Regions from separate parts of the Homo sapiens genome. Here region 2 is linked to region 1. Evidence: fine-mapped expression QTL. A gene starts in region 1. The other region holds a variant in brackets. All regions are shown on one strand. Distances are from middle to middle.

Region 1 (2,916 bases):
TCCACCGGCTTCGGCCTCCCAAAGTGCCGAGATTACAGGCATGGGCCACCGCGCCTGGCCATCCCCAGTGTTTCTAAACGTGTCAAGTGTGATCCAAATTTCAAAGGTTTGGATTTTTTCTTAGATGACCTGATAACTTAGATTCTGCTTTTTTAGCTTTCTTGTCTCAGTGTACTGGACAATTTGCATTATTTCACGGAGGGCTCAACACTGTCAGTCAGCCAACAACGTCTCATCCCCAGGATACACCACTCCTTGAAACTTTCTTTTCTACTTGGTCAGTCTGTTAGGTTCTCAGGACGAGCGATTGCAGACCTGAGGTGATTTGAATGTCCTTGGTAAGAATCTATCCTCAAAGGGCCTTCCTGCTTCAAATGCCAGGTTATAGAAATTCTTCCACTGGGAGAGTTATTCCTTTGGATTAAAGCAGTACCGTGCCAGTGTTCTGCATTTTACATTTAAGGGGGGCAGACACATGAAGTCACCTTTCTGAGGTTTTCTGCAAAAGATTAGCTGTGGATCAGATCAGGTCTAGGGCAAGTATGAAAGCACTAGTGACCTTGGGGAGGGGGAGGAAGCTCTGGGATTCGGCGCTAGGGAAAAGTGGAAGAGGACAAACTTTTAAAAAATCCGTTACTGGGTATAGGCCACAGAGTGTCTTTCAGATTACAAGATTTTAAGATCTGGTGCTCAGACTCTTCTTGCTATGCTCCCCCCGGGTCCACCCTCCAGCCTCCCCCAGGCCCGCCTTTCTTCCGCAGCCCCGTGCCGGTCTTCGATCCCCACCTCTCCAGAAGAGCGCCGGCGGCTGCCGCGTACCTCCTTCCCCGCCTCTCCCACCGCGCAGCGCCGCGGGCCGGCGCCGCGCTTCCTACAGTCCTACGAAGGGGAGTAAAGCAGAAGACTAGCGCACTCTCCCTCAATTGTCACCCTCCAGCTTTTTCCCCCGTGCCCAAGGCTTTCGGTCACCTCTTCATAAATAATAAAAACCAGAGTCCAGAACCTGAATAGGCAACCGCTGATCGGTCCAGCTCGCTTCCCCGCCAGTGAAAAGCAATCTTATTTCAGCGTCAACGCTCTATGTCTTGCAGTCCGATTTCGGCTGACACACCCGTGCCGCTGTCCCCGCGCCGGGCCCTCGAGTCCTGTCACCTCGGGCAGCCTGCGCCTGGCTCTGGGGCCTGGGCCTCTCCCCTCCTCCTGCCCGCGGACCTTGCCGCCCCGCCTCCAGCCCGTGCCACGGCGGCCGCCATTGGCGCGGGCCCATCCCAGAACGGCGCCCATTGGCCCGGTGCGAAGCCATTCACCCAGCGCATTCCGCCGCCCGCAGGCTTGCGGGGAAACTTCCTTATTATTGTGACGCCGAAAACGGAGAAACCCCGGGTCCGGCGAGAGGGGCTGTGACAGTCGGAGTCCCAAGCTGCGGTTCGGCTGCTGCCGAGGTGCGCAGGGCGGGGGCCGGGGTTCCAGGGAGGGGGGTACGGCGGAGCTGCAGCCGCGCTGGGCCGCGTTCCGCCTGGCACTGCAGTCAGCGCGCGGCTCCCGGAGGGGCGGCTGCGGCTCCTCCCGTGGCTCCGGCGGCGGGGGCTGCAGGCACCTCCAGAGACGACCTGGGTCTGGGGCGCGGGGAGGTTGGGGCGCGGCGCCCTTAGTACCCTGCGTACGCCTCCCTGGCGTTCTCGTGGGCTCGCCCTCCGGTCAGAGAGCCCCGCGCCGGGAAAGGCGAGACAAGCCTTCAAAATGGGAGCGCCTCCCGCCCGCGCTCGGCCGCCCTCCCGCCCTGCCGCCCGGGAGGAATTGCGACGCAGAAAGTCAAAAGGAGGATAGTCCCTATGCTCGCCCCCTGCCCCTATTTAAATTCTGGGGTTCCAGGGACCTCCGTGCAGTGAGGGGCGCGGACGCTTTCAATTGAAATGGGAGCTGGCGAGGCCCTGGCATTTTGGGGAACCTCAGCGGCCGCGAGGAGTTTGCGCCGAGGACGCGGTGCACGGCGTCCGCGATGACAGCGCCGGCAGGGCTGCGGGGCCCGGCACCACCCACTTCGCGGAGGCCGGGCCGGCTCGCCTCTCCCGGGTCCGCCTCCTGGGCGGGGCCGGGGGCGAGGGTGTGTGCGGACACGTGTGTACGGGTGTGTGTGTGTGTGTACGCCGACACGTCGGTGCGGACCGACGCGGGGGTGTCAGGAGCTGGGACGGCCGGGGGCAGGTGAGACTTGAGTCATTTGTGAATGTGTGGAGTGGGCAAACCAGGGCAACCAGACCGAGAGGAGCATGTGTAACCTGAAACAGGTGAGCCTATGGAGACAGTACCTAATGCGACTGTGCACGGAATATGTGTATGCAGCATGAGCTCCAGGGAATAAGTATTTGAACTTTGCTGTTGGTCTGTCACTGTTTCTGGCTGCTTTCTGATTGCATTTTACATCAGCTTTCAAATGAGCTCAATTAGGAAGTACCTAATTCAGAGAAAAGCCTTCCAGGATTTTGCTTGCATTCATCACGCATAGAATGCTTTGGGAAAGACGATTCAAGAGCTCTCTTCCATTTGTATGTGTCTTCTGGCTCTTTCCACAAATAAGAAGCTATTTCTAGAACCTTTTATTTGATGATTAGATAAGATCAAGTGAGCTGATTTTTCAACTCTAGACTTGAGAGAAATGAAAAAATAAAAAGTTTTAAATGCGGTGATCGGGTATCATGTTTTAGTCGGCAGATTACTGTGAAGCTCTCTCCTTTTGTACTTTCCTTTACCCTGGGGGAGGAGGGAGTAGCATTATAAATCAGAAAAGCAAAGTACATGGATTGCATATCCTAAAGCAAAATAATTGAATTACATATTTTACATCATGGTCGTACCGCCTTCGAGGCTAGGAACTTTCTGTAAAAAGTATAATGCAGGGAACAAGGAGGACAGGTT
Region 2 (2,916 bases), 99 kb after region 1:
TCTGCCTCGGCCTCCCGCATAACTAGGATTACAGGCGTGTACCACCATGCCTGGCTAATTTTTGTATTTTTAGTAGAGATGGGGTTTTGCCATGTTGGCCAGACTGGTCTCGAACTCCTGACCTGAGCTGATCTGCCCGCCTCGGCCTCCCAAAGTGCTGGGATTACAGGCATGAGCCACCGCTCCTGGCCCATCCTTGACATTTTAACAAACGACTCGAAGCTAGTATGATCTCATACATCATTCATTAACCATTTTTTTTTTGTCATGTTAACCTTCCAGACTATCCAAGAAGCCTCAGCTTTGGGGAAAGTGAGCTATAGTATCAGAGTTGAGTGAAATGATGCAGAAGCCACCCAGACACCCAACAAAACTGGCTTCAGTTGATGGAATTATCTTGGCTCTAGAAACCTAATATAGAGGCTAGTCTTGATTCAAGTAAGAATGTTGCAATCAAAACCCTTGATAAGAATCTCTTGGGGCTAAAAGCAGTTTCCTTTATATAACATTGGTACTTTTGTTAACAGTAAATAATTTATCTTCAGGATGTTTATTTCCTTAATAAGACCAGGCTTTTTATTCCATATAGTCAGATAATGTTTTTAGAATTGGGAAATTTATGGCAGATCATAAAGCAGATTTGTTAGCCCAGCTGATTTCCCTTCCCTCCTGGTTTTGGGGATTGCTTTATAACATTGTAGATGCGTGTGAGTACGTATGTAGATACATACGTAACCTTTAGTCTTTCAAACAATGTCTTAGCTTTTGCATTAAGTTTCAGACAAGATAATGTGTGCATCATTTGTTAGAAGCTAACAATGGGATAGGCAAGCATCCTGAGGAAGGGGAACATTCAGAGTGTCCTCATCCTCTGCTGAGTCATCATAGTGCTCTGTGAGTATGATACAGTGGCTGGGGAAATGAATGACCTAGTGCAGGAATAGGCAATTGGCAATGTAGTCTGCAATTGAGGCAGTGGCCAGAACTGCCTTATTACTCCTTTTCATATCTTTGTCAAGTTATTTCTCTTAGCATATTTTTTGTCTCTGTCTTTTTTGTTCTCTTTCTGAGTCTGAATTTTTCTCCCTTTCTGTTTCTCCATTTCTCTCTCCCTGTCACTCTCACTGTCTTTCTCCTTATTCAACAGACATTTCTTTGAATCAACAATTGAATTGACTCAACAGTTGTGGGAGAAACTGCAGGAATAGTAAAATATAACACAGTTTGTTTAGGGTGATAAGCTGTATCCAGATGCAACCATAAATGGAATATGAAGACTAAATTGGGTGGTTGAATCTGAAGGCGTTCAGAGAAGTCAGCTTGGACAGATGCATCTGGGAGGACAGATATGGGATAGAGCTAAGTTTGGAAGCCTACTAAGATTTGGATACTAGAAAGTAGAGAAGAGGATATAAACATGAAAGGTGCTCTGTAAAGGGATGGAAAAATCTGAGTTGTCGTTTCAGACAGAAATTTTGATTGCATTTTACTGTGTTCAAGATGTACAGAACAGCTTCTGTACTAGGTAGAAATTTAGATTTCGGTTTTTCAGAGTACTCATTGAATACACTGTGAACTCATCCATGCTACTTTAGGCACTGATGTA[T/C]ATGTCTGTGTCACTCAGTGACAGGCAGGAGACCCTGTTGCTGTCACAGTTACCTGTTTGTCTTTGGGCTGCTGTAAAAAAGTACGATAAACTGGATGGCTTATAAACAACACAAATGTATTTGTCATGTTCTGGAGGCCGGAAGTCCAAGATTAGGCTGCCAGCATGGTTAGGTTCTGGCGAGGGCCTTCTTCCACGTTGCAGACTGCTGACTTCTCGTTGTATCCTAGCATGGTGGAGAGCAGCGTTGGGAAGCAAGCTCTCATGACTCTTATAAGGACACCAGTCCCATTCATGGTTACTGCTGTACTCTTTACTATAGCTGTTTTGGTTAGGGACCACCAGAAAAAGACATGAATGAATTTTTTTTTCTTTTCATTTTATGCTGCACAAAATAGAAATCTTACCAACAAAGTACATTGAGGTCCTGGTAAGAAAGGCTGTATGAAGTTGTAAAAGATTGATCATTATAGTCATTATTTCCTTGGCTATATGCCATAATGTAGTCATTAGCAGTCCTAAATTATATGACTAAGAAAATGAAATAGCTGTAAGAAGAATACCTACTGGCCTTTTAACTTAGGCAGTTGTATACACAGATACTTCTGGCATTGAGGCTGTTTTTGTTAACAGTAAGATATTTGCTGGCATTGCTGCCCCAGGGGAAAATGCCAGAGGAATACCAATTCTGTATTCATAATTTATTCCATTTCATTTGGTTTTAAAATGCTTTCTATCCTTGGACAGAACCTACACAGTCAAATGAGTTGTAGGCATCCAGGTAAAAGAACATCTGTGGCTGATTACTGGTGGCTGCATCATAGACAAATCTTGCCACCAGCTGGTAGTCACATCTGGATAATACTATATCACATGACTACTCATGGTTAAGCATTTCTTATGGTCTATAATATGGTGTTAATTACCATTAGTGAAAAACCCATATGTCATTCTAGATTCCCTAAAATTTACCTTAATTTGATGCAATCAAATTAAATGCAATTGCTGTCTTCCCATTTTCCCCATATTAAAAAAGAAACAGATGACACACACATGGGGCTGGGGGGTGGGGCAGTGGGGGGCAGAGAGTAGAGTAAAGAGATCACATAGTAAGAAATGCCAAACTTAAGGTAAGTGCTTCAAAGGGCATCTAGATTCCGTAGTGAGAACCTGAGAATAAAACTCATGCATGACAAACACTTCTTGCTCCTTAAGATCTACTTCAGGACCGCTGGCAGACTTCAGTTGATCTTTCAGGATAGTTTCTGAGGGATGCAGTCTTTAAGATCTGCATTGTATTTGCACTGGAC

The links. PIP is the estimated chance that this variant, and not a neighbour inherited with it, causes the effect. A credible set is the group of variants that fine-mapping cannot tell apart.
Region 2: its variant is the best candidate, but not a certain one, in a credible set for the expression of HERC3 in whole blood (TOPMed, PIP 0.66).

The regions. Positions count from the first base shown.
Region 1 is chr4:88,591,133-88,594,048 of GRCh38, forward strand. It overlaps HERC3 (HECT and RLD domain containing E3 ubiquitin protein ligase 3), which reads left to right and starts at 1,348. Exons shown (of 26, transcript NM_014606.3): 1 at 1,348-1,442. RefSeq lists silencers at 854-913, 1,084-1,643, 1,964-2,373.
Region 2 is chr4:88,689,687-88,692,602 of GRCh38, forward strand. All of the region lies in intron 23 of HERC3 (HECT and RLD domain containing E3 ubiquitin protein ligase 3), which reads left to right. Among named protein-coding and RNA genes, the nearest start is that of NAP1L5, 6.7 kb to the right of the region's middle. The variant T/C (reference allele first, on the strand shown) is at 1,607.